3 separate regions of the Homo sapiens genome follow, and regions 2 and 3 are each linked to region 1. Evidence: fine-mapped expression QTL. A gene starts in region 1. Each other region holds a variant in brackets. All regions are shown on one strand. Distances are between the middles of the regions.

The links.
Region 2: its variant is fine-mapped to the expression of PXN in whole blood (TOPMed, PIP above 0.99).
Region 3: its variant is fine-mapped to the expression of PXN in left ventricle (GTEx, PIP 0.98).

Annotation. Positions count from the first base shown.
Region 1 is chr12:120,261,091-120,271,298 of GRCh38, reverse strand. It overlaps PXN (paxillin), which reads left to right and starts at 5,569. Exons shown (of 15, transcript NM_001385981.1): 1 at 5,569-5,682. The coding sequence starts at 5,670. RefSeq lists silencers at 5,262-5,541, 5,702-5,851.
Region 2 is chr12:120,213,864-120,224,071 of GRCh38, reverse strand. PXN (paxillin) reads left to right here. Exons shown (of 15, transcript NM_001385981.1): 3 at 239-354; 4 at 1,073-1,209; 5 at 1,322-1,523; 6 at 2,314-2,449; 7 at 3,981-4,865; 8 at 6,956-7,231; 9 at 7,491-7,799; 10 at 8,411-8,512; 11 at 8,799-8,969; 12 at 9,074-9,247; 13 at 9,855-9,936; 14 at 10,082-10,208. It overlaps LOC124903034 (a long non-coding RNA gene), which reads right to left and starts at 3,981. Exons shown (of 3, transcript XR_007063487.1): 1 at 3,147-3,981; 2 at 1-2,757. RefSeq lists an enhancer at 7,342-8,068. The variant C/T (reference allele first, on the strand shown) is at 6,429.
Region 3 is chr12:120,224,836-120,235,043 of GRCh38, reverse strand. All of the region lies in intron 1 of PXN (paxillin), which reads left to right. LOC124903034 (a long non-coding RNA gene) reads right to left here. Exons shown (of 3, transcript XR_007063487.1): 3 at 9,623-10,208. Among named protein-coding and RNA genes, the nearest start is that of PXN-AS1, 29 kb to the right of the region's middle. RefSeq lists enhancers at 2,233-2,792, 2,793-3,352, 2,832-4,031, 4,473-5,032, 5,033-5,592 and 5 more and silencers at 4,904-5,198, 6,441-6,550, 9,504-9,798, 10,107-10,156. The variant C/T (reference allele first, on the strand shown) is at 4,313.

The sequences.
Region 1 (10,208 bases):
CCAAAATAATGATGACAGCTGACATTTAAAACTGTACCGTTCAATGCAGTAGCCGCTAGCCACATGTGACTACTGAGTACTTAAAATGTGGCTAGCTGGGCCGGATGCAGTGGCTCATGACTGTAATCCCAACACTTTGGGAGGTAGAGGTGGGCAGATGGCTTGAGCCCAGGAGTTCAAGACCAGCCTGGGCAACATGGCAAAATCTCATCTCTACTAAAAATAAAAAATATTAGCCAGGTGCGGTGACATGTGCCTGTAGTCCCAGTTACCCAGGAGACAGAGATGGGAGGATCACTTAAGCCTGGGAGATTGAGGCTGCAGTGAGCCTCAGTCTCACCACTCTACTCCGGCATGGACAACAGAGTGAGACCCTGTCTCAAAAAAAAAAAAAAGAAAAGAAAAGAAATGTGGCTATTTGGATTGAGATGTGCTGTAAGTGTAAAATACACATTGGATCTTGAAGACTTCATACAAAAAAGAGTAAGATATCTCACTGATATTTTGTTATATTGATTACAAGTTGAAATGATAACATTTAGGATTTTTTTTTTTTTTTTTGAGACAGAATCTTGCTCTGTCGCCAGGCTAGAGTGCAGTGGTGGGATCTCAGCTCACTGCAACCTCTGACTCCCTGGTTCAAGTGAGTCTCCTGCCTCAGCCTCCCGAGTAGCTGGGATTACAGGCACGTGCCACCAGCTAATTTTTGTATTTTTAGTAGAGATGGGGTTTCACCATGGCCAGGATGGTCTTGATCTCCTGACCTTGTGATCCTCCCGCCTTGGCCTCCCAAAGTGCTGGGATTACAGGTGTGAGCCACCATGCCCAGCCAACACTGAGGATATATTGAATTAAATAAAATATATTATTAACATTAATTTTATCTATTTTATTTATTTATTTTGAGATGGAGTCTCACTCTGTCCCCCAGGCTGGAGTGCAGTGGTGTGATCTTGGCTCACTGCAAACTCCACCTCCCAGGTTCAAGCGATTCTCCTGCCTCAGCCTCTGGAGTAGCTGAGATTATAGGTGCCCACCACCATGCCCGGCTAATTTTTGTGTTTTTAGTAGACCAGGCTGTTAGCCAGGCTGGTCTTGAACTCCTGACCTCAGGTTGTTTGCTCACCTCGGCCTCCTAAAGTGCTGGGATTACAGGCATGAGCCGCCGTGCCCGGCCATATATTTTTTTATTTTTTATTTTTTGAGATGGAGTTCTGCTCTTGTAAGCCAGGCTGGATCTTGGCCCACTGCAACTTCCGCCTCCCGGGTTCAAGCGATTCTCCTGACTCAGCCTCCCAAGTAGCTGGGATTACAGGCATGTGCCACCACACCTAGCTAATTTTGTATATTTAGTAGAGATGGGGTTTCACCATGTTGGTCAGGCTGGTCTCAAACTCTTGACCTGAGGTAATCCACCCATCTTGGCCTCCCAAAGTGCTGGGATTACAGGCATGAGCCACCGTGCCTGGCCTGTTTCTTTTATTTTTTTAAAGATATTTTTTAGAGAGGAGGTCTTGCTAGTTTCCCAGTTTGGACTCAAACTCCTAAACTCAAGCAATCCTCCTGCCTCAGTATCCCATGTAGGTGGGACTACAGGCATATGCCATTGCACTTGGCTAAAAAAGTTTTGATTGGGCCGGGCGCGGCGGCTCACACATGCAATCCCAGCACTTTGGGAGGTGAGGCAGGTGGGATCACCTGAGGTCAGGAGTTCAAGACCAGCCTGGCCCACATGGTGAAACCCCATCTCTACTTAAAGAAATGCAAAAATTGGCCAGGCGCGGTGGCTCACGCCTGTAATCCCAGCACTTTGAGAGGCCGAGATGGGCGGATCACGAGGTCAGGAGATCGAGACCATCCTAGCTAACACGGTGAAACCCCGTCTCTACTAAAAATAGAAAAAATTAGCTGGGCGTGGTGGCGGGCGCCTGTAGTCCCAGCTACTTGGGAGGCTGAGGCAGGAGAATGGCATGAACCTGGGAGGCAGAGCGTGCAGTGAGCCGAGATCGCGCCACCGCACTCCAGCCTGGGCGACAGAGCAAGACTCCGTCTCAAAAAAAAAAAAAAAAACAAAAACAAAAATTAGTCGGGTGTGATAGCGGGTGCCTGTAATCCTAGCTACTCAGGAGGCTGAGGCAGGAGAATCACTTGAACCCGGGAGGCAGAGGTTGCAGTGAGCTGAGATCATGCCGCTGCACTCCACCCTGGGCGACAGAGTGAGACTCTGTCTCAAAAAAAAGAAAGAAAAAAAAGAAAAGTTTTGATTGCATATCCGGCTTGCATTCTGTTTCTTTTCTCTCTCTTTCTTTCCTTCCTTCCTTCCTTCCATCCTTCCTTCCTTCCTTTCTTCCTTCCTTCCTTCTTTCTTTCTTTGTTTTTTTTTTTGACAGAGTCTCACTCTGTCGCGCAGGCAGGAGTGCAGTGGCACAGTCTCGACTCACTGCAACCTCCGTCTCCTGGGTTCAGGTGATTCTCCTGCCTCAGCCTCCTGAGCAGCTGGAATTACCGGTGCACACCACTATGCCCAGCTAATTTATATATTTTTAGTAGAGATGGTGTTTCGCCATGTCGGCCAGGCTGGTCTCGAACTCCTGACCTCAAGTGATCCGCCCGCCTTGGCCTTCCAAAGTGCTGGGATTACAGGTGTGAGCCTGGTCGAGTTCTGTTTCTATTGCTGAGTGAAGAGTGTTATTTTGTGGTGACAAGGACCATTCTAAGTACTAGGTGTGTCGTTTCTTATTTAGTCCTATGAGGACTCTGAGAGGTAGCTACTATTAACCTTTCTATAGGGGAAGAAACTGAGGCACAGAGTAAATTGCCCAAGATGAACCACTAGCAAGAAGTCAGCAGGGTTGTCCATCTGCTCTGTCAATGTCGTTTAATCTTTAGGAAGAATGAAAAAACCTGATTGATTTTATCAAATGCAAGGGACTGAATGTTCATATCCTTGAAAATTCATATGTTGAAATCTAATCTCAATTCGATAGTGTTAGGAGGTGAGGCCTGACAGGTGATTAGGTCATGAGGGCAGGGCCCTCATGAAAGAGATTAGTTAGTGCCTTTATTAAAGGGACCCTCTTTGAGCCGTGTGAGGGTACAAAAAGTCAACAGTCTGCAACCCAGAAGAGGGCCCTCACCAGAACCTGACTGTGCTGGCACCCTGATCTTGAACTTTCAGCCTCCAAAACTGTGAAAAAATAATTTCTGTTGTTTATAAGTCACTCGGTCTACAGTATTTTGTTGTAGCAGCCTGAACTAGACACCAAGTTTAATTGCTGTGGGGTGAGAGTCCAAGGGAAGAAGGAAGCCAGGGAGGAAATGGGGGTTTAGGAATGATTTACATGAGGAAATCCCTGGCAGGGACCTGAGTGTTCGAGTGCACCAGCACTCAACTCTGAAGCTTCAGTTCTCTTTAGAACTCTGCATAGCAATGGGAAACTTGCCCATTCAATGGGTGCCTCGCATTTCCAGACCACACAGCTTTGAAAAAGAAAGGTTTTAGACCTTTGGAGAAGTGGACAAGCGTATGCCCTGGGGTTGGTCTAAGTTGTTAGCAGTTTCACTTAGCCGTTTCATAACCAGGCCTTGGCATAAGCCTCCCCAGGTTCAAATCTCAGTTTCCTTACTTATTAGCTGTATGACCTGGAGTAATTCAACCTCTGACTCTCAACTCTTCCAGCTGTAAAAGGGGCTAACAATGCTCATCTCCTAGGCTTGTGGTCAGTATTAAATGTCTTGTCTACAGACCTTTGCACATGCTGTTCCACACAGCTGGGAGTGGGGCGAGGCTACTCATCCTTCATGCTAACCACTTTGCTCTTTTGCGTGCACCTTTAGATTCAAGAAGGTAGACATCATGTTAGTCTTATTCATCATCCCAGCCTACGCAACAAAGCAAGACTGTGTCTTAAAAACACAAAAACAGGCTGGGCGTGGTGGCTCACACCTGTAATCCCAGCACTTTGGGAGGCTGAGGGGGGCGGATCACCTGAAGTCAGGAGTTCAAGACCAGCCTGGCCAACATGGTGAAACCCTGTCTCTACTAAAAATACAAAAATTAGCCAGGCATGGTAGTACACGCCTGTAATCCCACCAGGAGGCAGGAGATCACCTGAGATCAGGAGTTCAAGACCAGCCTGGCCAACATGGTGAAACCCCATCTCTACTAAAAATACAAAAATTAGCCAGGCATGGTGGTATGCGCCTGTAATCCCAGCAGGAGGCAGGAGAATCACTTGAACCTGGGAGGCGGAGGTTGCAGTGAGCTGAGATTGCACCACTGCACTCCAACCTGGGCGACAGATTGGGACTCCATCTCAAACAAAAACAAAAACACAAAAACTAAAACAAAATAGAGGTATGTGCAAGATGCTGGAAAACCACGCAATAGAGTGTTTGAGGAACAGTCTTTGGTCTTGAATTTATTATAGGAGAATGTGGCAGCCACAGAAGCTGCTTGGATCTGCCTTTATAAAATGACTGAACATGGTGGGAGCATTGGAACCCGGATACTTCTGCCCAAGGAGACTTCTCATTTTTTTTGTCCTGGAATTCCCTGATGGGTTGACCTGTTTGTCAGATCTGAGTCTCCTTGCCCAACCCTGCTTATTTCCCCTTCTCTGTCACGGGCATTACCCCTAGCTTTATCTCAGCATCTCATCTGCTTTCTGGAGGACCTGATCTGACCCAGAAGGCCTGGATTCTTGAGGGACAAGGGGAACTCGAAGCTGTACTTGCAGAGCAGTTTTATATAAAATCCACAAACTGCCATCACCCATCCCAACGGGTAGGGAAGTACCTCTAGGAGGATTAATTTAGAGAATAGCTATATAGTGTCTGTCTATTCAGACACTCAATAAATGGTAGTTGTTATTATTACCCAATTTCCGAGTGTGTGGGAGCACTGGGTGTGACTTTCCTGTAGTTTTCCCTTTAATGTCTAATCTGGGGACCCCTCTGCCCCATGCAGTTTTGGAAAAGTGTCTAGGGAGGGTGGCTGTGTGGAAGTAATATTAAGAGAGATGGAACCACACAGGTATTGGGTTTGGGCCAGAAAGGGTGAACTGCGAGCTGCACTGCCATTGATCCAGAGGACGACCCCAGGAAAGGTCAGCCACGGGCTCCGGGCCTTGCCTGGTACTGATTTATGGTCCTCCTGGGTGGTGACCTACAGGTGACAGACGGACAGGTGGGCAAAACTGACTGTCCAGTGGACAGGCATGTGATGACCCAGTGGCTGACGAATGCACAGACACATGGCTGACTGTGGACGGATTTGTCATCCGCAGGGTCAGGCAAGTGACTTTGAGAGGGACAGAAAGATGGATGGGAGTGGCTGGAGGCCTGGGAGCCGCCCACCTGCCCGCTTAGCCGCGAGGGGGCGCCACCGCCCCGCCCAGCGACGCCCACTGCCCGGGCTCTTGGCGGGGGCGGGACCAGCGTGCGCAGGGGGCGGGGCCAGCAAGCTCGCGGGGGTGTCCGGGGGCGGGGCGCGCGTGCACAGGGGGCGGCCGGGGGCGGGGCGCGCGGCGGGCGCGGGCGCGGGCGCGCGCGGCGGCGGCGCGTTCCGTTCCGGGCCGAGGCTCGCGGCGGAAAAGTTGCGGGGCATAGACGAGCGGCCCCGGGACGGGCAGCTAGCGCGACCCTGAGCCGGCGCCCGTGGTCCGGCCATGGACGACCTCGGTGAGTGAGCGGGAGGCCGAGGGAGGAGGAGGCGAGAGGCGCGCAGCTTGGGGCCAGGAGGGCGCCAGCGAGCGGCAGGGGCCGCGGGATCCCACCCTCGGCGGCCCCGGCCTCAGCTCCTGTCCCTGCCGGCCGGGGCTCCGCGGGGCTGGGATCCCTAACCGGGCCTTAGTCTCGGGCCAGGCCGGCCCCGGCACCGACCGCACAGCAGCGACCCCCCGTCTGGGACGGCTTCACCTCTGGACCCCCGACCTCGGGGACCCATCACCATCTCCCAGAAGGGCCCCAGGGACCAGCCCGCCCCTCAGGGACCCACCCCGTCCGCTGCAGGGACGAGACTTCCTGCGGCAGACCACCTCGTCAGCTACGGGACCCTCACCTCGCAGACCTCTCCCCACCCCCACCTCACAGATCGACCGCCCAACTCGGGGAGCAGCTGCCCGATCTCATGGGCTGCTCCCTCATTTCCTCGACCTGCTCCCCGTCCCTCCAGGGCCGCCCCCCACTTCACAGACTAGCACCCCCCTTCAGGGATAACCCCTCGGAGCCCACCCCTTTCATTTCACAAGTCAGATGCAAAAGCTAGAGATGAGCGTGTGATGACCACACCCCCATTTCAAAGACAAGTTTCCCAGTCTGCCTGCTCTTCTGACCCCCCACTTCAAATCTGGTCACCCCGTTTCAAGGACCCATCACTCATTTTCTCTCACTGACCTCCCCGCTCTGTGGACCAGCCCCTCAATTCACAGACCAGTCCGTCTACCATGGTATCTAAGTCTAGAACGGTAATTTGGGAGTCCTGATTCTCTCCCCACCCCTAGATTCTGGTGAAATGCCAGGGGAATGAGGTGGAAGGTGGGCCCCAAGGTATGACCATCCCTGAACGTGTCCTGGCTAGCAGAGTCCCCTCCACCCTCTCTGCGTCAGGCCCTGCTGGAAGCCACGCAGGTGAAAGAGGACAGGATGCCCAGAACAGAGTTTTACTGTTTTCCTGTTATTGGAGCCCCAAGGCTACTCTTTTCAGTCCAGTCTTGATCTGGTGTTAGGGGAAAGAAAGTATCTCCTGGAAGCCGACTCTAAACCCAAGGGGGTTGGTGCCAGGGTTCTAGGAATGCCTTGGGTGGCGTGAACGCAGGAGTGGGAGGATTCGCTGTCTCTCCCTCCCCTTCACGCCTGTAGCTGGAGGGCCCTGAGCTTGGGAGGTGAGGAGGGGGGCAACGTTTCTTCTCTGCAGGAGCCTTGTCTTTCCTCTCTGGACTGTGGGTGGCTTGTGTGACCACTGATGCTTCCTCTGTCCCAGGCTCTGAGGAGTAGATTCAGCAGACAGGACTGATGGACCTCTACCAAGCAGCGCCGGGCACTAAGTTAAGACTGGCTATTTGTAGGTGCTGGACTTGACTGCTTCCCTCCAGCTTCCTTTTGGGATCAGGGTGCCCCTGAGATCCTGGAGCTGGGGTTGGTGTAGGGTCCTGCCTGTTTTGCAGAGTGAGATGGCTGCCAAGCGTGGTTCTGCCTTTGGGTCAGGCTTGGCACCCATTTTTCCAGTGTGCTCAAGGTTGGCATGGCTTCCAGGCAGGTATTTTTTTTTTTCACATAAAAATAGCTCAGCTGGAAGGAGGCTGGGGGATGTTCTTTGAACCAGGATCTAAGAGTCTGAGTGCTTTCCCAGTGGGAACTGGGAGCAAAGTTACAGTTTCTAAAGTGCTGGTGCAGTTCTGTTGCTTCTCGGCAGTCCCCGTGCTGTTTCAAGGACTGAGAAAGTCTTTGTAGAGCTCGCCATCGAAATCTGGAATTCCTGTCTTCTGACAGTCTTCCATTTAGGGCCAGGAAACTGAGTTCTGAAAGGAAAGAGAGTACTGTATACGGGAGAGGGGATTGTAGGGATTTAAATTGCTGTTTGTGGAGTACTTCCCTCTACCTCGATTTGTGATATCCTCACAACAACCCTTTTATCAGATTCCACCTTAAAGCCAATGCTGTCATGACCACCTGCCTTTTTACAGATTGAGAAAGCCGAGACGAAGAGAGGCTGATTCTCTTGCCCAAGGCTGCACAGCCATGAAATGACAAAACCATAACTGGAAGCCCAATTCCTAGCTCCCAGATCTGTGGCTCTTGTATACCGAGAAGACTTTTTTTCCTGGGGAGGAGGCAAGGGCACTTGAAGGAGGGGTTGCCACTGGGTGATGGCGATCACCTGTAACTTCTACTGCTTTCTACCATAGACTCCCAGTTGCTTACATCCGGGCTGCCCGACTTCCTTGGCCTGAGCTCCCAAGGGGCAAGCCACGCCTGACTGACCGGAGCCTGGGGTGGGAGGAATGGGGTGTGCAGGAGGGGAGAGGAATTTGCCTTTGCACTGGGGCCCCGTCAGCTGTCTGGATGGCGGCTCAGCACACTGCCATCAGCTGTTTTCCTTAGGGTGGCTCAGCTGTTTTCCTTAGGGTGGACACAAAGCCCAGACCTCTTGTTTTTATTTTTCTCCTGAGCGTGCTCTCAGCCGTGTGCCTCCTGGTCCCTAACACAGGGGAGAGTTTATGGTGTGTCCGGTAGCAAGGCCAGAGGGTGCATCACCTCCTCTGTGACTTTGTTTTTTGGTCTAATAAAAAATGGGGAACTCTTCTCCTTCCCATAGTTGCCAATGACAGACTCACCATGTGCTGCTTAATAAGTTACAAATTTATAGCTCTCTGAGCAGAAAAATATCAACACAGCGTGTTCTGCCCTTCCCTGTGTGTTCTCTCCACTTTGTTCTTTGGGGTGGCTGCTTGGTGGCTTTTCTTATTACTGTTTAGATGCTGGTTTGGCCCAGAGTTCGCTCTGTTCAAGTTCTGGCCGGAGTTTCCTGGACAGAGTTCCCACAACACTGAGATGCACTCTGACTGTGTTTTCTAACCCGATTGCTTGCTCTTCCTCTGTTCATGTTCTCAGTGTACTTGGTGGGGGCTTTGACCACAACTGTGGTCTAATCATGATCATGTGCGCTTCATGGGAGACAGGCACTGTACTCAGCACTTTACGAGCTGTATCACAACCTTTCAGAAAGGGAGGTGTTTTCGCTCCACTTTATACATGTGGAAACCTGAGCTCAGGGAAGTTTAGTGGTAGTGCTGGGATTTGAACCCAGGCTCATCCAATTCCAGATCCGGTTATCTTAATCATCATAAGGTGGTAGGTGCTGGTGACTAACCAGGGGGATGAGCCTTGGGGCCTGCTGAGTAATTGATAGTTACCTTTAACAATCTCTGCCCTAGGGGCCCATCCCAGGAAATGGCAAAGGGTGTGTCCAGTGCAAGACTGGGTAGCTTTGCCTTCCCATCCTCTAGCAGGGGGAACAGCCAGCTGTTGGCAGTGCCCAGTTGCTGCTGGAATCTGGACATGTCTTCTTTCAGCTTCTCAGCAGTCTTGACCCTTTGGAAAACAGTGCCTCATTGTCCTTGGGGGTAGTGCTAGGGGGGCAGAGGAGTTGCCTGGGGCATTGGGAGCTATGGAGCCTCCCTGTTTCCATGGAAAGTCTGGACTTTGGGCTTTCCTGTCTGTGGTCCCTCTGTGTGTTAGGGCAGAGTCAGGGCACCCAGCTGCTGGGCGTGTGGCAGAGGCGGCATTTACCCATGCAGCGATAGTGCCCTCCTGGTGGGCTCTGCATCAGTGCCAGACCTTCTCCTGGGCTTGTGCTAGTAAGGGGCAGAGCTGGGATTCAAACCTTGGTGGGTTTGATTCTTCAGCGGGTACACTTTCTGATATGTGAAGCTGTCTGCTGCCTGGGCAGACATAGCTTGATGGAGAAATGCTCAGCCTACTGGAACCCAAAGCCCTGTCACTATAGGTTCAAGGTCTTTTGAGGGAATATCTCAGTATTCCTTTTTTCCAGCTTCCCTAGTGATGGTCATGCATTGAAGAGACTGGGTGTACCCTTGGCTGGAGAGGCTGATGGAAGGCCAGAGTTATTGGTGGGCCACTGAGCAGCCCTCCTCTCCTATTTAGTCATCCTGCTTGGAGTATCTGACTCTGAAGCTTCTCTTGCGTCTTTACCTCGCTCCAGAGATGTTGAATAAACTTCCAGCCTCATTGCAGCCTTTCCGGGGATCATCCTAGTCTCAGTGCCTTCATTAATAATAACAAAATCTGCCGGGCATGGTGGCTCACACCTGTAATCCCAGCACTTTGGGAGGCTGAAGTGGGTGCATCTTTTGAGGTCAGGAGTTCAAGACCAGCCTGGCCAATGTGGTGAAACCCAATCTCTACTAAAAATACAAAAATTAGCTGGGCGTGGTGGCGCGTGCCTGTAGTCTCAGCTACTCAGGAGGCTGAGGCAGGAGAATCGCTTGAACCCGGGAGGCAGAGATTGCAGTAAGCCGAGATCGCATCACTGCACTCTGGCCTAGGGGGTACTTTTCTTTTTTACAGTGTTTACAGAACTTTTTCTCATAATATTTATTGAGCTCTTATTATGTGCAGGCACTGTGCTGGGCACTTTACATGCATTGTTTGCTTGAATCAAGCTGGCCATATGAGGCAGGTTTTAT
Region 2 (10,208 bases), 47 kb after region 1:
AGGGGATGGAATGGAATTGGGGCAGTCGACCCTTCCCAACCAGACACTGCTCTTCCCACTCACCACGTGAGTGGAACAGTGACCAAGTGGTTAATCACAGGTTTCCTGGCCCAACTGTGGAAATTCCCTGGTGAGACTGGCTGTGGGCAGGAGCCTCCTGGGGGTGACTGGAGCTGCTCCTGGCCCCTGTTCCTTTTTCTCCCCTCGGGGTAGCCTCTGAGCATTCTCCTTCTCGCAGCCTCAGTCCTCATCACCTGTGTACGGCTCCAGTGCCAAAACTTCCAGTGTCTCCAACCCTCAGGACAGTGTTGGCTCTCCGTGCTCCCGAGTGGGTGAGGAGGAGCACGTCTACAGGTACTGCCCCAGTCTGCCCAGGGCACCTTCCCTCCTGCTTAGAAATCTCAGGGACCTGGCCAGGGTGGGAGGCAGCGGAGGCCCGGGAGCAGGCATAGCAACTGGGCCTTGTGGGGTTATTCTGGTTTAAGCTGCAGAAGGCCTGTCGGTGGGCCCGTCTACCTCATCAGTGCCATCTCCATGCAGTGGACATTCTGGGCTATCACAGCATCTCCGTGTAGCTGAGGAACTGAAGCAAGACTTCATTCCTCCCCTCTTCTTTTTTTCTTTTTTTTTGAGACGGGGTCTCGCTCTGTCACTCTGTCGCCCAGGCTGGAGTGCAGTCGCGCGATCTCGGCTCACTGCAAGCTCCGCCTCCTGGGTTCACGCCATTCTCCTGCCTCAGCCTCCCAAGTAGCTGGGACTACAGGCACCCACCACCACGCCTGGCTAATTTTTAGTAGAGACGGGGTTTCACCGTGTTAGCCAGGATGGTCTCAATCTCCTGACCTCATGATCTGCCCGCCTCAGCCTCCCAAAGTGCTGGGATTACAGGCGTGAGCCACTGTGCCCGGCCTCCTCCCCTCTTCTTACCACATCCCTTCCCTACCCTCTGTCCTCTTGCGGGGGAAGACTTCGCATCTCCTCTGCCTTGTTCTCCTTGGGAATCTGGGAACTGCCAAGCCAGTACAAGGCCAGAAAGCATCTCTCACTATCTTCTTTCCTTTGCCTCTCAAAGCTTCCCCAACAAGCAGAAATCAGCTGAGCCTTCACCCACCGTAATGAGCACGTCCCTGGGCAGCAACCTTTCTGAACTCGACCGCCTGCTGCTGGAACTGAACGCTGTACAGCATAACCCGCCAGGCTTCCCTGCAGGTAGGACCGGGTCCCTGGGGCAGGGTCTACCAGGGCCCAGGGCCCATCTGCTGACCTCTAGATCCCAGGAGGGCTCAAGGGCTGAGCAGCCTTTTTCTCTCCTCTCTGCAAGATGAGGCCAACTCAAGCCCCCCGCTTCCTGGGGCCCTGAGCCCCCTCTATGGTGTCCCAGAGACTAACAGCCCCTTGGGAGGCAAAGCTGGGCCCCTGACGAAAGAGAAGCCTAAGCGGAATGGGGGCCGGGGCCTGGAGGACGTGCGGCCCAGTGTGGAGAGTCTCTTGGATGAACTGGAGAGCTCCGTGCCCAGCCCCGTGTGAGTACCCACTGGGCCCTCCCCAGGTGGGGAAGGGCTGGCCCAGCCTGCCCCGGGTCCAGTGTCTGTCCCCTTAGCCCTGGTATCACCCACTCCCTCCCGTGTCTGCCATTTGCCAGGCACTGGGGGGATAGTGGTGAGTCACATGGACACCATCCCTGCCTTCAGCCAGTCACTGCCAGTCAGAAAGGACAGACGTTGTGCAGGCTGAGGGCGCCTGGAGCTTAGCAGCTCTTAGCACAGGCTTTGGGGCCACACAGTGGGGTTCACATCTTGGCTCTGACAGTTACTGTCAGCTCTCAAGCCTTAGTTTTCCCATCTGTAAAATGGGACAAGAACTTATGGGATCACTGGGATAAGACCACCTACCTCAGTAAGGGTGAGAACCAGTAATCCATGTAAAGCGCTTGGAATGGTTTCTGGTGTGTAGTGCGTGGCACACATGGTGAGTGCCCAACACGCGAGCTCTTACCAGTGCCGTCGTGTTACTGCAGTAGCCTCACCTCCATGTCCAGTGTTGTGGAGGAAACACAGGGCGCTTGGGCTTGTTTCGCAGGCCAGCTTTCACTTGGGCTGGGGGCTAGAGGAGTCTTCCTGGCACTTCCTGGTGCCATTGAACTGCCCTTTCTTCTGACCCAGTGATGGGTCCCCAGGAGAGACAGGGAGCTGGTGGACCTCCCTGGGGTTGGGGATGGTGAGACCCCAGTGTCCGAGGTGAGAGGTCGATCTGATCCCCGGGAAGTGTGGGGCTGACTGTGGGCTCCCCACTGATGCTGTGCCCACCCTGCAGCCCTGCCATCACTGTGAACCAGGGCGAGATGAGCAGCCCGCAGCGCGTCACCTCCACCCAACAGCAGACACGCATCTCGGCCTCCTCTGCCACCAGGGAGCTGGACGAGCTGATGGCTTCGCTGTCGGATTTCAAGGTGCCCTGTGAACCCTCCATCTTCCCTGCCCTGCCGCCCCTCCCTCATCCTTCTCCTCCCTTACCTCAGTGTGGGTAGCTGGATCTTGGCATCTCAGTGTTTGGGTGCCTTGCCCCTGAGCCAGGGACACTGTCATGCCCTGGCCTTGCTGTGATGCCAGGAGATGGGGAGGGAGGGCCGGGTCAGCCTGCCTGAGGATTGCAGTAGCCAGTGAAGGCAGACAAGCTGGAGAAGTGCTCAGCTGGGACATTCCTTCCTCCCTGGGTGCTCCCAGCCTCTCAGGTCGAGGGGATCAGGAGGCTGGGACGCTGGGACAAAGAACCTTGTGTTGATGGCTGCTCTGGGTGGGGGAGGGCATTCTCTGCTGGGCCATGTGGGACTTGGGAGCCTGTGCCTGGGAGGTCATTTGCCCTGGAGCCCCATCTCCCACGCTAGCTGTCCTCAACACATCCTCTTTCTTTCTGCCTCTGATCCTGAATCCACAAGCCTCCCTTGCTACTCTTCTCCCATCCTTCCCTCTCGCCCTCCAGGGCCTCTGAGTTCCCACGAGCGTGTCTGTGGGAAACCATGGGGCCAGGCTTGCACGAGGTACCTGCCCTTCCCCTCCCCTGCTGGGCCTCCCCAGTCCTGCCAGGCCTGAGATGTTTAATTTAGAGGATTCAGTGTTTCCTTGGGGATTGATATTGACAGAACTCACCAGCAGCTGCTGACTTCATACTTCCACGTGGGTCAGCTGGAGACCTTTGGGGCATGACCTAGGGAATATGAGAGGGGAGTGAACGGTCCCTGCACCCTTGGCCCTGATGGTGTCTCCTAGCCTCCCTTCAGCTGAGGTTTCATGGTGGGAGACAGGAGTGTGGCTGGGGTGGAGGGTTGAGCCTGGCCCTGTGACCCTTGCGTGCTATAGTTCCAGCTCCAGGCCAGTGGTTCTGAGCAGCCATGGTCAGAAGCAAGTAAGTTGGATTCAGGGCCTGGCCTGAGGGAGCTGTGCCCCGGTGCTTTTAAGGCTGCCGTTTTCTCAGACAGCCTGTGTCCTGATGCCAGGAGAAGCAGCAGTGGTTTTAGTCAGATCCCTGGAGCAAGGATGTGGAAGACGTAGAGGACTTGGGGTGTAGGAAAGCTGGGATTGTCCGGAGGGACATGGCCGAGTTGGGCCAGTGTCCGAGGCGGGTTCAGCAGCCCCTGGGGCTGGCTCTCCCTCCATTTGTGCCTGGGGCTGTCTTCCGTAGCCACCTGGCTCCCCATTTGTCCACCTTACCGTGGTCTTTTCTTTCTCATACCCTCCCTGGGTGGCTCCACAGGCACGGCTTGGTGGCTGCTTTCTCTTGCTTGGGTTTGGTGAGGGCTAAGCACGCAAAGCCCAGGGAAGCTTTTTTGGGGTCTGGGTCTCCTTCAAGGGTCAGTCCTGTGCGTCAGCTTTGCAGCCACCTTGGTCAGCCCTAAGGCCGAGCCCACCGCCTGCAAGGTGCAGCCGTCCTCACTCCCCTCATCTCTCTCTCTCCTCTCCCCTCTGCATTTCTCTCTTCTCCAGACCAGCTCCTCCACTGTGGCTCTGAGTGCCCCGGGGCTGTCCAGCTCTGCTCCGTCCTCATACTGCTCCCTTCCTCCTTCTCCTCCTCCCATGCCATCTGTATTTCTGCCACCCACCACTATACCCTCCCCTCGAGGCCAGGGCCACACTCCGGAGTTCCCTTGTACTGAGCAGAGTGGACGAGGCCTTCTACCTCCTGTAGCCCCCAGCTGGCTTGATTTGGCTGGTCTTGGGGTGATGCCTGACACCTTCAACTCAAGGTCTCCCTCTGTGGAGGGTTCTCTGTGGGCAGTGGGCACAGAGAGTCAGGGTCGAGATTGGAGGCACCTGCCGACCATCACAAGTGAGCTCTCTGGGGCTCCCCGCTGCCACACTGTACCCTGTGCTGGGAGCACAGCTCTCCAAGAGCCTGGGGAGCCCCAGGGGCCACCAGCCAGCCCTTCGTGCCCAGAGGAGGCCTTGGCTGCCACATGGGAGCAGCCATGGGCTTCGGAGGTATTCGGGCCTGAGAGAATGCCCCCCTCTGGAGCTGCTCGAAGCTTCCAAGAAGTAACAGAGCCAGCTGTAGTGGCAGTGGACCGGCAGGCCATCTTCCCAGATACCTGGACTCTCACGGAGGAACATGGCCTACAGCAGGAGAGGCCAAGGCCAGAGCCAGGGAGGCTGGGAAGCAGCTCCCCTGCCTCAGTTACCACGGAGCAGCTAGGTGCAAAGATGACCGAGAGGGGAAGTGTGGCCAGGCCAACCCAGGGACCTGAAACCCCAAGGAGCCCAGAGGGCACCACGGAAGCTGCCACCCAGGACGGGAAGGAACAGCCAGAGCTTCCATGTGCCATGGCCATGGGCACACCCAGCACCACGGAGAGGATTTCCACCTCTGGCCAGGCAGGCACCAGCTCGCATGGCTGCTGGGCATGGCCATTGGCGGGTCTGAGTGTGGGCCGCTCCTCGCTAACTGCATGCAGCCTCCCACTCTGCGCATGTCTGCTTGGGCAGAAAATGCTGAGACACTGTGGCCGGACCTGACAGTCAGCACTTGGCAGTGGGCTCTGTGGACCCAGCATTTCTCATAGCGTCAACCCACCTCTTGCCTTGTTGAGGCTTTTTCCTTTCAGATGAGCTGTCCTTGACATTCTGATGTGGTGAAATGGTTAGCAGCATGGACTTTGGAACCAGATAGACCTAGATACAAACCACATGTCTAACACTTGCTACCTCTGTGACCTTGGGCAACCCCCTCCCTCAGCCTCAGTTTTCTCATCTGTAAAGTGGGGAGAATTTCCATCAAGATTGTCCGGAGACCTAAATGAGATAATTCCTGGAAAGTGTTTAGAACACAGCATGTGGTCCCTCAATAGGCCGTGGCTGACAGTACTTTTATTACTTGCTTTTTGCTTAAATTAAAACTTTATGCCGGGCCAGGTGTGGTGGCTCACGCCTGTAATCCCAGCACTTTGGGAGGCCGAGGCGGGCGGATCACCTGAGGTTGGGAGTTCGAGGCCAGCCTGACCAACATGGAGAAACCCCATCTCTACTAAAGATACAAAAAGATTAGCTGGGCATGGTGGCGCATGCCTGTAATCCCAGCTACTCAGGAGGCTGAGGCAGGAGAATCACTTGAACCCAGGACGCAGAGGTTGCGGTGAGCCAAGATCATACCATTGCACTCCAGCCTGGGCAACAAGAGTGAAACTTGGTCTCAAAAAACAAAAACAAAACAACAACAACAACAAAAAACTTTATGCCTCACCCTGGCACAGTAGCTTATACCTGTAATCCTAGCACTTTGGGAGGCTGAGGCAAGAGGATCGCTTGAGCCCAGGAGTTTGAGACCAGCCTAGGCAACACAGTGAAACCCTGTCTCTACAAAAAATTAAAGATTAGCTGGGCGTGGTTGCACATGCCTATAGTCCCAGCTGCTGGGGAGGCTAAAGCAGGAGGATGGCTTTAGCCCAGGAGTTTGAGGCTGCAGTGAGTTGTGATCGCACCACTGCATTCAGCCTGAGCAACAGATCAAGACACTGTCTCAAAAAAAAAAAAAAAAAAAAATCCCCCAAGCTTTATGCCTCTTTGGAAAACAAAACGAAACAACCAAAAACCCCCAAAACACTACCAACAAGTATAATAGCATAATATAATATTAGCATAATAATATAAATAAGAAAAAAAAAACTAGTTAAAAAAGTTCCTGGCTAGCTGAGCACGGTGGCTCACACCTGTATTCCCAGCACTTTGGGAGGCCGAGGCAGGCAGATCACGAGGTCAGGAGTTTGAGACCAGCCGAACCAACATGATGAAACCCCATCTCTACTAAAAAAAAAAACAAAAAACAACAACAACAAAAATTAGCCAGGCGTGGTGGTGCATGCCTTTAATCCCAGCTACTCAGGAGGCTGAGGCAGGAGAATCTCTTGAACCCAGGAGGCGGAGGTTGCAGTGAGACCAGAT[C/T]GCGCCACTGCATTCCAGCCTGGGCGACAGAGCGAGACTCTGTCCCCCCCCAAAAAAAAGTTCCTGGAAGGAAACACTTTTTCTATTATAAATTAAAAAAAAGAAAAAAGAAAAAGCCGTATGCCTTGTCAAGGGCATGCACTTACATCCTCTGGAATAATTCTTGTGCAAACCCTGTGCGGTAAGCCAAGAAAATCTTGTGGTTCCATTTTAAGGAAGGGGAAGCTGAGGCCCATGGCAATTAAGTGTCTTGCCCAAGGTCAGTGGCCAACTTAGAGGTGAATGCTGGGTCAGAGGTCTCGCTCGCAGCCTGTGCTTCTGGAGCCAGTCCGATCTGCCCCCTCCCCTTGCCTCTACCCACCTCCACCGGTCCAATCTGCCCCCTCCCCGTGCCTCCACCCACCTCCGCTTGGTTCTTTGGTGGTTTTCTTTTGTGCTCCCTCTCCTGAGGCATCTGAGTGTGGCCTGAGCAGCGTTGTGCAAGCTGGGAGTGGGACGGTGACAGCCTCCCCTCCCCCTCCCCCTAGATCCGATCTGTGATCAGGAGGAGCTGGGAGTCTGGCCACGCACACCCCATGTCCCGGGAGCCCTCCCCTCGCCGCCGGCTGGACCCTGCCACCTTGAGCAGGACCCCATCCCAGGAACAGCTCATCGCGGAGCTGCAGGGGCGGCTGGGCATCCAGCCTGAGGCAGAGGAGCCGGCGGAGGCGGCGGGGCCCTCTGCCCAGGACTGGCTGACCGAGGGCGTCATCATCACTGTGCAGCCACGTGGGAAGCGGGCCGGGGGGCAGCTCGTAGAGAAGGTGGCGAGGAGATGCCCATGGCTGGGGCTGGGCCAGAGCCAAGCACCTGGGGTCCGGGTTCTTCCCTGGCCCCAGTGCTGGCCGGAGGGGAGATCTGGGGAGAGGGTGGGGGTTTCTTGCCTCCTGTGACTTTGGAAGACTGGCCCCACTCTTGGTGCAGAGTGGGAAGGCCCAGGGGGAGCCTGGGGAGGTCCCGCCACCCCTGTGGGCTGAGCTGGCGATTTCTTCCTCATCGCTCTCCCTCCTTTCTTCTCCCCAGGTTGTCTTCCCTCCTGGCTCTCCCATTCCCCTGAGAAGAACCATCTCTGTCCTGGCTTCTCCTTCTGTCCCTTTGCTCCAGCATCGCACAGACGCCGCGGCCAGCAGCTCTTCTCCCCTGCCCAGCCTGCTCGCCTCCTCCCCCCTGGGGCCCTCAGCTTATACCTGTGGTTCTTCTGGGGTCCAGAGTGCAGGGGAAGAGCCCCATGATGAGGGGGTGCAGGGCCCTGCCCTTCCCATTCCTGCACCCCACACCATGAGGTCCGTGGGCTGCCAGACTGATGAGGACCCGCTCTTCCCCCCGATGCAGGCAGGCCTTAAAGGAGCCCCTCCCTTTCTGTCCCCTGTCCTAATGCCTGAGCCATCCCCCACTCTGCACACACACACGTGCACACACACATACACAGATACCCTCCATCCCTCCATCTACAAGCCCCAGCACAGTAACCACAGTCCTGCCGTAAACCTTGACCCCGGTCTTCCCCCACTCAGAAGGTCCGCTGCCCTCTTGCTTTTCTGTGGGTCCACCCATGTCTGCTCCTTCCTCGACTGGTCCTCAGTACTGCCCCGGGCTCCCATCGAGGAAAGAAGCCACTCCAGAAGGGAGACCAGAAACCTGTCTCCTCCCTTCCAGCCCCCAGGCCCAGCGCCCGGTGAGGCCTCATCACTGAGCCCGGCCACCTCCCCTTGCCATTTCCTCTGCCTTTGGTCGACTCCCCTCCCTGTCCTTCTTCCTTTCTCCCTAGGCCTCTCTCTCAGGGCTCTTTTTCTCCAGATTTTTTCCCCCAATTTTGGTCCTGCCGGTGGGGGAGAAACCCTCAGATCTCATCCTAGATTCCCTTTTAGTCCAGTGACAAGGTCTTGTATTCTTTCTTAATTTTTAAAAAAGATTTCTTACCCTCATCTCTTCCCCTATCTAAGATCCAGGGCCTGGAGCAAAGAGCGGATGGGGAGCGGTGCTGGGCGGCCGGCTGGCCTCGGGACGGCGGGCGGAGCAGCCCCGGAGGGCAGGACGAGGGAGGGGTCAGTGCCAAGGCTGGGCTGGGTGTCCTGCGTGTCGTGCTCTCCCTGGGCTTGGCCATGCCTGCTGGGTGCCCTCAGCCTTTCCGACCCTGGTGGGCCCCTCCGACCACCAGGAGTCCTGCTGACGTCACTCCCACTTTAGGGCTCCTGGCCCCTGGAGGAGGTTGTACTTCTTGTCTCCATCAGCTCATCTGTCCAGGAGGGAGAAAAGTACCCCCATCCCTGTGCTGCCAGACACCGTACCCCGAGCCTCAGGAGTCCTGACCAGCCCCCTCCGTGTCCACAGTTCATGGCCCAGGGGAAGACAGGGAGCAGCTCACCCCCTGGGGGGCCCCCGAAGCCCGGGAGCCAGCTGGACAGCATGCTGGGGAGCCTGCAGTCTGACCTGAACAAGCTGGGGGTCGCCACAGTCGCCAAAGGAGTCTGCGGGGCCTGCAAGAAGCCCATCGCCGGGCAGGTGATGAGGGGGAGTGGGCAGGGGTGTGGCCAGTGGACTCCTGCAGGGGTGGGGGTGCTCCGGGGCTGGCCTTGGCCCTGGACCGCATTCCATCTCCTCCTCAGGTTGTGACCGCCATGGGGAAGACGTGGCACCCCGAGCACTTCGTCTGCACCCACTGCCAGGAGGAGATCGGATCCCGGAACTTCTTCGAGCGGGATGGACAGCCCTACTGTGAAAAGGACTACCACAACCTCTTCTCCCCGCGCTGCTACTACTGCAACGGCCCCATCCTGGATGTGAGTTCCTCATCCGGCACCGCGCCCGCTTCCGCTCATTCCAGCTTCACCGCAGCCCTCTGAGGATGCAGGGGGTGCCGTGGGAGGCTCAGAGAGGTCACATGCCCGAGGCTCACAGGGCTAGGGAACAGTGGGGCCGGATTCACAGCCACACCTGAACCACAGCCTGTCCCGATGTGCATCGGGCAGCCCCACCTCCCTTCACCTCCCATCTCGATTCCTTTCTGTGGAGACTCCCAGGACTCAGGAGCCCTGAGGAGATAAATGGAGTTGGATGCCAGCGGCCTCACTCTCCCTCTCTGTGAACTTAGGAAATGCCTGGCCTCTCTGAGCCTATGTTTCTTCACTTATAAAATGGGAGTCATAGAACTTGTGCCCTCTACTTGGGGTGAGGAGTAGAGGAGAGGGTATGTGTCTGGCTTGTCCCATCCTGAGTAACTCTGAATTCTTAGAGGCATTCACAGCACAATTAGGAGAGACCCCCATCTTGGGAGTGTTTTGCTCTGTCTATGGCTATGAGCTGCGGGTGGAAGGACGGCCTTGCTGGGCGTCTCAGTTGTGAGATCTGCCCAGAGCTCAGCCTTGATCCCACATTTTGCTTTCACAGAAAGTGGTGACAGCCCTTGACCGGACGTGGCACCCTGAACACTTCTTCTGTGCACAGTGTGGAGCCTTCTTTGGTCCCGAAGGTACGGGCTGGACCGGCGGACTGACCCACCGCCTCTTAGGAGGGCCGGGGAGGTGGGGGTGGGAGACGCTGCTGAGGTTGGAGTCAGAGTGGCTCCACTTCTGGAAGCCGGAATGAACTGTGCCTCCAAAACCCCCGCTCCCCAGGGTTCCACGAGAAGGACGGCAAGGCCTACTGTCGCAAGGACTACTTCGACATGTTCGCACCCAAGTGTGGCGGCTGCGCCCGGGCCATCCTGGAGAACTATATCTCAGCCCTCAACACGCTGTGGCA
Region 3 (10,208 bases), 36 kb after region 1:
GGCGCCTGGGCTCAGCTGATGTTCTCCAAGGAGGACTTGGAATGAACCCGAGACACAAAGGGTGAGGTCAGTGGTTTGCTCAGCAAGAAGGCTGAGTTAGTGACAACCTGTCACAGCTCCCAGGATCCCTGGCTGCAGTCCCTGGCTCCGACTCCTCCCCCTGCTGGCCTTAAGGGAGATGAAAATCAGTGATGTGGATCTATTGACTGAGTGTCTCCTGTGTGTCAGAGTGGGAGGCTTACGTTTATTTTATCCCAGCCACCAGGATGGCTCTCACATTCTTTTTCATCCATTACTCACTGTGCGCTATGAGGTGCCTGAGTAAACTAAAGCCCAGAATTATCTAGTCACTGGTCACCCAGGCTAGTGAGTGGCGGATTTGAACCCATCCTCCTCACTGTTAGATGGCCCATTCCTTCCACTCTACCACACTGCCATGCAGGTGGGATGCCCAGAGGGTGTCCAAAGAACTGTGTGACCATCCTAGCTCCCAACGACAGCAGACCAGCCAAATCTGTGATATGGGCAGGGGTGGTTTTATGTGTGGACAGTGGGGGCTTTGTGGTGCTGCTTAAAATTGTTTGCCAAAGTCCCCAAGAGCAAAATCTTATCTGTTTTTTTTGTTTTGTTTTTTTGAGACAGAGTCTTACTCTGTCGCCCAGGCTGGAGTGCAGTGGCGCAATCTCTGTTCACTGCAACTTCTGCCTCCTGGGTTTAAGCCATTCTCCTGCCTCAGCCTCCCAAGAGGCTGGGATTACAGGCATGCACCACCATGCTCAACTAAATTTTGTATTTTTAGTAGAGTAGAGATGAGGTTTCACCATGTTGGCCAGGCCAACATGGTTTCGAACTCCTGGCCTCAAGCAATCTCCCTGTCTCGGCCTCCCAAAGTGCTGGGATTACAAGCATAAGCCACCATGCAGGCCTTGAAGCCTCTCTTTTTATCTTACGATTTCACTTGCATTTTGCATTTGACTCCATAATGTAGCCTTGTTTGTTTTAAGACAATGATTTACATTTCTTGCCCCTGAGTACATTTGATCCTCAGAGTGTTCTGGGTTTATCCTGAGGTGGCTTCCTGTACCCCTGGCTTCCATCTGTCCCCTGGGGGTATGGATATCCTTGTGCGAGAGGCTCAAACCAGGTGAATGATGATAGAGGTAGTGGTGGGACACATTCAGTATTGTGAAGAAAGGCACGCTGGCAAAAAGGGAAGCGGGGAGTCCAGTTTGGCTGGAGACATGGGTTGCAGTGAGGGGGACCAAGGAGGCAGTGAAGGTTAGTTTGGGGCCATATTCTGAGAGGGTCAAGAACAGAATGCCATCCCCAGGGTTTCTGACCTTGTTTTATAGGCAGAGAGGGCAACAGTGGGTGAGTATTATAACTCCACCCCTTGCTCTGCACACATTCATTCAAGCCCCTCTAAGAGGCCTGTGAGGGCCGGGCACAGTGGCTTATGCTTGTAATCCCAGCACTTTGGAATGCCGAGGTGGGTGGATCACTTGAAGTCAGGAGTTCGAGACAAGCCTGTCCAACAATGTGAAACTTCGACTCTACTAAGAAAATACAAAAATTAGCCAGGTGTGGTGTGTACCTGTAGTTCCAGCTACTTGGGAGACTGAGGCAGGAGGATCATTTGAACCCGGGAGGTGGAGGCTGCAGTGAGCTGAGATCATGCCACTGCACTCCAGCCTGGTTGACAGAGCAAGACTCCATTTCAAAAAAAAAGGAGGCCTATGAGGGTATCCATGCTGTGGGGATTCAGGAGCAGGAGGATGTTCTTGCCCACAGAGGACCTGCAGTCTAGGGGGAGAAGCAAGAGTGAAGTGTGAGGCATGCCCCAAAAAGGCTGGGTGCCAAGAAGTTCGGGCCGATGGTGTGTGCAGGAAGCGTTAGATTGGGAGAACCCAGGGCAGGGGGCTGCAGTCAAGTTCAGGTAGGCACTGAGCATGGATTCGAATGCTAGTCCAAGTGGTTGGCTGTGGTGATGAAAGGAAAGGGAGGCAAGTGATGACAGGGAGAGGCCCCGCGAAGGAAGAATTGATGTGACTTAGTGACCAGCTAAATGTGGGAGCTATTAAAGGGACTTAGAAAAGAGAACTGGGGAAGTCAGGCAAGCGAGAGCTGACTTCGGGAAATGACCTTGCTGCCTGAAAAAAGGGGAAGGTGCTGGCTGGTTAGTGAGAACCTGATTAGCAAAGAGTGGGTAACTAATGCTATGAAATCCACAAAAATCGCAAAAAAACTGCAGCTCATCTCAGGAACAGGCAAACTTTTGAACTTTTTGTTCGGGTCTCTGTGGGACGATGACTCACTTTGAGCCCCTCCTAACCTCTGTTGGTGATTAGCAGGGGTGAGAGGCCCAAGGAGCCGCCCTGCTCTGCAACAGATCAACTTGCCTGGAAGAGCCCAGATTGCAGGAATGGGCTGGGGTCGATTTGGAACAGCTGAGAACCTTTCCAGCCCATGAGTCTCCTGGGTTTGAGGCTGTCTTTTTTGTATGTGAATCTGGGTTTTACCCATTGAAGGAGCTGTGAGTTGGGCCTGGAATGGGGCCCTGGACTTGACCTGAAAAGGTCTAGCATCTCTGGGCGACCTAAAGAGGTGGATGACATCTGACCAATGAAATGTGTCCACAATGTTCTGGGACCTCTGGAGGAGGGAGGGCCCACTGATTCTGGACAGGAGAGATGAGTTATTTACAATATGAAAGAGACTCTGGGGATGGGCATGGTGGCTCCTGTCTGTAATCTCAGCACTTTGGGAAGGCCCAGGCAGGAAGATGGCTTGAGGCCAGGAGTTCAAGACCAGCTTGGGCAACATAGTGAGACCCTGTCTCTACAAAAAAGTTTTTAAAAGCCTAGTGTGGTGGCATGTGCTTTTAGTCCTAGCTACTCGGGAGGCTGAGGCAGGAAGATCCCTTGAGCCCAAGAATTCTAGGCTGCAATGAGCTGTGATCAGGCCTCTAGCCTGAGTGGCAGAACAAGACTTGTCTCAAAAAAAGAAAAAAAGAAGAGAAAGACTCTGGTGTTTGGCCAGCCTGGCCTGAACTCCTGTGTCTGTAGCCTAAGGCAGATGCATAGAAGTGCTCAGAGTCAACCTGGGCAGCCTTGTCTCACCTGCTGTTGCTTAAGCTCCTGGAGCCCAATTTGATGGGGAAGTGGCTGCAGCCAGGAGCCTGATGGGTGGGCCTTGTGTGTGCCTGGTGCAGATGGGCCTGGCACAGTTGGTCTTCTGCCTGGAGCTCAGGGTGACTGCTGGAGTTGCCTTGCAGCCATTATTTTCTCAGGTCTCTGGTTACCTGTGCCCTGTGACCTTGGGCACAAGCCAGGCAGCCAATAAAGCCAGTCTGTCTGCACACTCATATTGTGTCACCCTCTGCAAGGAAGAGCTCCTCAGCATACAGGAAGCCACCCTCCTAAGCTAGGCCTGTAGGAAGCCTGGGGAAGAACCACTTCATCCAAATGACCACCCCCTCCTCCCCTGGCGGCTGACTGGAAGACTCCTGGGCCTTCTCCCCTGGCTTCCTGTGTGTCACCCCCCAGCCCACACTTCCTTCAGGGCTGTAAGGGTAAAATGCAGTTCCTGTTGAGTGAGGCATGAGTCAGCGGAGGAGAATTGGTGGCTGAGTCTTTGTAACCTCCAGGCATGGCTATTAAATATTTAAATGACACTATGGTATTGATCGTTTCTCATCCATCCTCTTAGCAGAGCAGTTCCTGTCTGGGATTCAGATAATAGCAGAATCTTGGATTTAGACTAACTCGGAAGAGCTCAAAGGTGCTATATAAATCTCACCCATAATTGTATTATCTCCTCAGAGCATGCTACTAGGAATGGGGACAAATCGGGTTCTGCCCATTTTCTTGATAGAGAAGACATCCAGAGAGGTTAGAGGATCCGCTGAGGGGCCCCCACTCATCCGCTGGGCCTGGGATCAGGGCATCCTGGCTCCCCTCCTCCGCACTGGCTGTTTGCTCTGCTCACTGCTGCTTCCCCATCCTCCTCCTCTTCACAGCCCCTCTGTCATTCAGCCATTCATTCTAGCTGCTGGGGATATGGCATCGAACAAGACCGACAAGGCCCCTGCTCTCTGGAGCTTAATTCTTGGAGAGGAGACAGTTGACAAGAACCCAAATTGGCAGGGAAGGCCCCTCAAGGAGACTGAGTTCCTAGTCAGTGTCCAGGCCCTAGGTCCCTGGGCTGGGGGTGGGTGGGGCAGAGTGGATCTGGCCTAATTGTGGATTGGCCCTTACTGAGGACAGACGGTTATCAGGATAAATATACCCAGCTCACCATTCCTGGGGACTTA[C/T]TCACCGAGTGAAAGCACCCCGCTGCGGATTAGATTACCTCTGCTCTAACTGCTCATGTGCTCTGGGCTGGGGGAGGGGAGGGGAACTTGGAGCCAGGGGGAGGGGGGAGACCCGCCTTCCCGTTCTGTTTTCCTTCCTAATCTGGAAGAGTCTCACCAAAGGGGCTGAGATGAGACCATCCCTGAGCTGGTCCTGCTGTTTACATAGCTCCTTCCTTAGGAAGGGCCAAGCCCTGCTCACTGCTTATATCCCTGAGCGTGGGCAACTGTAAGGAGGCCGCAGCTTCTCTGACACTCAGAGCTACCAAGGCTGCCCAGGTGGTCATCAGGGGGTTGGGAACCTCCCTTGTCCAGAGTTCTGGACCCAACAGGATAGACAGGCCATGAGGCTGGGCATCCCCAGACCCCCTAGGACAGGGACTTGTTTCTCTGGGAGTCTGGGTTTCCTATCAGATGGCAGGGATGGACAGCTGGCCCAGGGCTGCGGGGAAGGCCCCTGTGCTATGGCAGCCCGTTGCTGCTGGTGCTGGAGCTTTCAGGGCGGTGCTTGCTGCTCCTTCCTTTGGCTTGTCAGCTCCTAAGGAAGCTGCACTGGCCGCTCCCTGCCTGGGGCAATGAAAGCTGAGTGAAATTGGCCTGCAGAAGAAGGTGGGTGAAGGGGCTGGAAAATACCTTGTTCTTACGTGGGCCTCTCCTGGGCCAGGCCTCGAGAATGCAAGGCGTGCTAAGGTGGGGCGCTGCCTGAGGGCCACAGGACTATACCTCTTCTAGTTCTGCCTGGGGCTGCTGGTGGAGGAGTCCAGAATGGCAAAGGTGGGCAGGGACCACGGGGCCCTGGCGCTGGGGCTGGTGTGGCAGGGCAGCCTGTAAACTCCAAGAAGGGATGGAAAAGCTGGCTCCATGCCCCACATTTACCTGCTTCCTGCTGATCTGGGACTAGAGGGCAGCACCCTTTGCCCTCAGGGATTGGATAGGACGGGGAGGTGATTTCTTTCCCCTCCTAGGGCTTAACACCTCCCTGGGAAGAAGCTTGTAATCTATTTAGCAACTCCCATTTCCTGTGTGCTGTATTCCAGGCACTGTGCTAAGTCAGCACTTTATATCTTTTTCTCATGTAGTCCCAATCCTGTGAGTAAAATGGTGGAATTCCTATTGGGCAGACAAGGAAACTGAGGCACAAAAGCAGTTAAGCAGCCTATCCGAGCAGTTCAGCCATTGAGCAGAGCCCAGGTGACTGAGGATTCACCGTACAAGTTGTAACACTGAAAGTCCTCAGAGCCTGGGAGGAGAGAATGGAATCGCTCTGGGTCCTCCCACCCCCTCAGAGAGATGGACTTTTATCTCCTCTCTCTTGGCACCTGTCCAGCTCCAGGCCTCTGGTCTTGATAGTCTTTATCACACACTAAGAAGTGGCAGGGGCTTAGGTAGGAGGAAGCAGCCTGGCTTGTTTCTGTGCTGCAGTCGGGGGTGGGGGCGGAAGGTTTTAATTGATTCTCTTTAATCTGATATTGAGTGCCATGCGTCAGTGGATCAACCGGGGTCCCCAGAGCCACAGTCTGGGGGACATCCCCCCATTGTAGGTACAAGGGGACCCAGGTTTCCTTCCACCCGGAGCCCCTAGGTGGGTACAGGAATGTGAGGGATGCAGCTGCAGCACTTGCCCTGGAATGCAGGCGAACCGGTCCCCTCCTCCTCGGAGCAGTGGGCTGAGGGTGTCTGTACCTTAACCCTCCAGCGGCTCCCACCGGTTGTAAGGATTACGCTCAGTCAGTTGCTGAGGCCCAGGGAAGGGCTTCTTCCTCTCAGCCTGGCCGTAGTGCACTGTTTCTGCCCAGCCACCTGCCCCAGGGCGGCCTCCCGACCCAAAGCTGCAGCTGTTCCATGCTGTTGCTCCGACCAGGTGCAGCCATGGGGTGCAGATAGGGGCGCACACGGTGCTGCATTTGCACAGGGCCCTGGAAGCGAGGGCGTGCACCCCTCTGGTTCTCCAGAGCCCTGCATGTCACCCTTGGGTTGTGCCTTCAAGTGATACCAGGCTACCTGTGTTCCTCCCACTAGCTTGCTGTGTTCCTCCAGCTCAGCCTTGTTCTCTAAGGATAGAAACTTCCCCACTGCGCCCATGGCCAGGGGCTCCCCAGTCTTCCCCGGCTAGAAAATTGCAAGATTGCACGAGGTTACCCAGTGGCAAGAAGCTGACGGGCCAATGGTGCCCTCTGGTGGGGAGCAGCAGACAGTCTGCACCCCTTCCTCACCAGGGCGGAGCCAGGACATAGCTCCGTGGCCTTTGCCCATGGCTCGCTGGGGACTTTGCACCTAGCCTGCCCTCAGCCTCGAGACAGCCTGGCCTACCTCCTCATGTTGCATACTTCCGCTGGCCCAGAGAGACAGAAAACCTGCAGAATTCAGGGTGGGTTTCCTCCAGAAAGTGGTTGGGAAGCCCCAGAGAGAGAGCTTCCTCCTTCAGGGTGACTTGGGTCTGGAGGGCCCCAGGCCTGGACCTGGAAACTTAGTAGAGTAATGCCAAGGAAATTTGAGGCCTTTCTTAGCTTGAATGAGGTCTCCCGACTACTTCCGAGCAGCGTGTCTGGAATCTGTCCTCCCAGCATGTGGGAAGGGAGGGTGTATTCCTGGTCTTGAATGGTTTCAGTGGGTACCATTTTCTCTGAAGAGTGGATAGCCTGACACCTTCTTTGGGGTATGAGGAGCAGGAATATTTAGAGCAGAGGGAAAGGCTGGAGCCGGACACTGGGGGACCCCGCTGGGATGGGGCTCTGCCTTCAAGTGGACTCCTTCCTGTGTGCAGTGTCTGCCAGCTCTGTTTGCTCAAGCCAGGGGGGACGTTTGCTGAGCTTGCAAGGGGACTCTGACCCTTAACCATTTTGCAGCCTATGGGGAAGTCTCAGGTATTTGCACCCATTGGAAATCAAAGTAAAGCTAGGAGTCTACTGTTGGCTTGCCTCCTGTATTTCTGGTTTTCTTTCTTGAGGAGTTTGTGGGGGGTTTGGAGGCACCAACCCCTACCCCTCTTGCCTAGTCCTTGCCTGTCCAAATCACTAGGTGAGAATGAAGGGTGGAGAGAGAGGAGGAAGCCATACCAGAGACCCTGTGGCTGGTGGATGGACTTGCTGGGGTTTTTCTCTGTCCCTCAAATAGACAAAACTTTGGAGAAAACTGAATAATGATGTGCCTTCTCCCTGACATCTGCACTCTATGATTTGTTCGTTTGTTTTTAAGACAGGGTCTTGCTCTGTCACCCCGGCTAGAGTGCAGTGGTGCAATTGTAGCTCACTGTAGTCTTGACCTCCTGGGCTCAAGCAATCCTCCTGCCTCAGCCTCCTGAGTAATTGGGACTACAGGCGCATATCACCACACCCAGCTAATTTTTAAATTTTTTGTAGAGATGGGGTTTCACTGTGTTGCCCAAGCCGATCTCCAACTCCTGTTCTCAAGTGATCCTCCCACCTCAGCCTCCTGAATAGCTGGGACTATAGGCATGCGCCACCACACCCAGCTAATTTTTAAATTTTTTGTAGAGACAGGCTCTCACTGTTTTGCCCAGGCTGGGACATGCTACAATTTGAATGTTACTTTATTACTTTTCTTTTCTTTTCAAGGTTGCCCTTTTCATGGTTTGCTCATATTCTACCCAGAAAAGACTTAGGAGACTTAGAAGAAGTTAGTACTTTGCATCCTACCTACACTGCTCTCCTTGGAGGAAGACCTTATTCTGGATTTTACAGAGCAAATCAGATCTGATGTTTGTAGCTTCCAATGTGCTATGGAGCTTCCTCCTGCAGAGTGACTTGGGTCTGGAGAGCCTGATATTTGCAACTGATGTCTGCAGCTTCCAGTGTACCTGCTAGCCCTTATAAACCTCACACCAGTACTTTGAGGTCAGAGTTATTCAAGAGCTTACTGAGACAACAGGCCCTGAGAAGCTAAGCGATTTGCCCTGTGGCATGGATGGTAGAGAGGGGAGCTGGCACTTGAACTCAGGTCTGGCTCGACCTCAGAATGAGTGATCTTGTGTCTCTGTGCCCCAGGACTGCATCCTCTCACCAATACTTCACCAGCCTAGGGATCTGTGCTCCCAAGAGCCTGTTGACATTGTAAACCTGAATCCAATCCATAAACCAAAAGCCCAGGCTTAGAATCACATTGTGGTGGAGCGGGTGTTTGGTGGAGTCCCTGATTCAAAATGTTTGACAAGGAAGCCTGACCATTTGTCTTCTGTTGGGTGTTTGGAGTCCAAGAGACCTGAGATCAGAGTCCAGCATTGTCACTTCATCCAGCCTTGGCAGTGTGGGATGTGACTCTGCCTCTGAACCGCAGTTATACCATCTGTGCTGGTGGCGTTGTGAGGATGGCAGGTAACAAAGGTGAAGCTCCTGGCCCCAGTGGGCCTTCAAGGATGGCAGCTGCTCCTGCCCCCTACTGGGGTTGCACTCATTCGTTGCCTGCTCTGGGGAGTCCTATGGGGTTTCTTAGCTGGCCCTGCCCATGGTGGAGAAAGAGGGATCCACCCATTGCTGATTGGGCCCAGAGGAAATGAGGACACTGCGTGAAGCCAAGACAGCAGGTGTGGCCCTGGAGAGGCCGTGGGGATTGGCCTGGACACTGGTTCCTTTTCTGCCGTTACCTAGATACCTACCAACTCCCTCTAGTTCCGGTTTGCTAGAGACAGGAAGCCAGGCCTCCTCCATGGGACCCGGAGGGCGGGGCGGGCTGTAGGACCTGAACTTCCTTGGAGGTCAGGCGACCAGACCCGGGGTCCTGGGCCTTGGAACAGACATCCCCTCTGTCCATCTGGGCAGGAGCATGGGGTAGGTGTGGCCAGCCTTGAGGGTAGGAGATCAGGACAGGCAGCTGGGACAAGGTGTGGCCCCATAGACCGAGGCCCTGGGTGAGGGCCTTGCTTCTCTATTCCCTCCTCTGAACACAGGTTGGGGGACTGGGAGCAAGGCCACAAGGAAGGATCACACTGGCAGGCCTCACAGCTTGGGCCTCCAACATTCAGGAAGTTGAACCCTTTAAGTATGGCATCATCTGGTAGTCATAGTGGCCTCTTACAGGCCAGGTTTTTGGGGTTTGGGGCTTCTGAGGAGTCAGACAATTGTGCCACTCACTGGCTTTGTTATTTGGAGCAAACACCTCTGACCTCTGCCTCTCCAAGCCCGGCTTTCCTCATCGCTTCGGGGAGAATCATTTCCAGCTACAGGGGGTATTAGGGGGATTAACGGAGACCTCGTACATGCTGCTAGAATGCCTAGCAGTCTGCCTGCTACTGATAAGTGGCAATAAACGCAGCCATTGCTTTTTAGATGTTTATTATCCTGAGGGCTAGGGATCAAGCTGTCAGCTCCCTGGACCCAGCAGGTTACCGGGGAGCTGAGAGCAAGCAAGTTGTGAACGGGGCAGGAATGAGGGTGTGGCATCCAGGGCCAGGCTGTCTGAGCCGTGGGGCTGTTGAGGGTCCCAGGAGGGGATGGAGGAAGTGGGGGTCAGCAGGTCCTACTCCTGCCCTTCTATACCCTTCTTTTCTGGAGACTGGGGAGACCTAGTGCCCCCCTGTTGGCTGCCAGGTGCCAGGGTAATGGAAGCTTACACTAGAGGGCTGATTTGGCTCCCTTGCCGCTGTTAAAAGCAGAACAGTGGGGGCCTGGAGCCTCTGGGGCCGGGCTGCTTGCCAGACTTCCGCAGAAACAGCCAATGGAGCAGTCTTGCCCCCTGCTCACTGAGGGGGTGGGGACCGCTGCACCAGCCTCACTCCAGCCCCCACCTCCCCGCACACCTTACCCCATAAGCCTAGAGCCTCAGGAGGAACCTGGAGCCTGGGCTTCTGCTTCCACCTGGTTAGGAGGGCAGGGACCATCCTGAGTGCCCCTTCCAGTCGGGG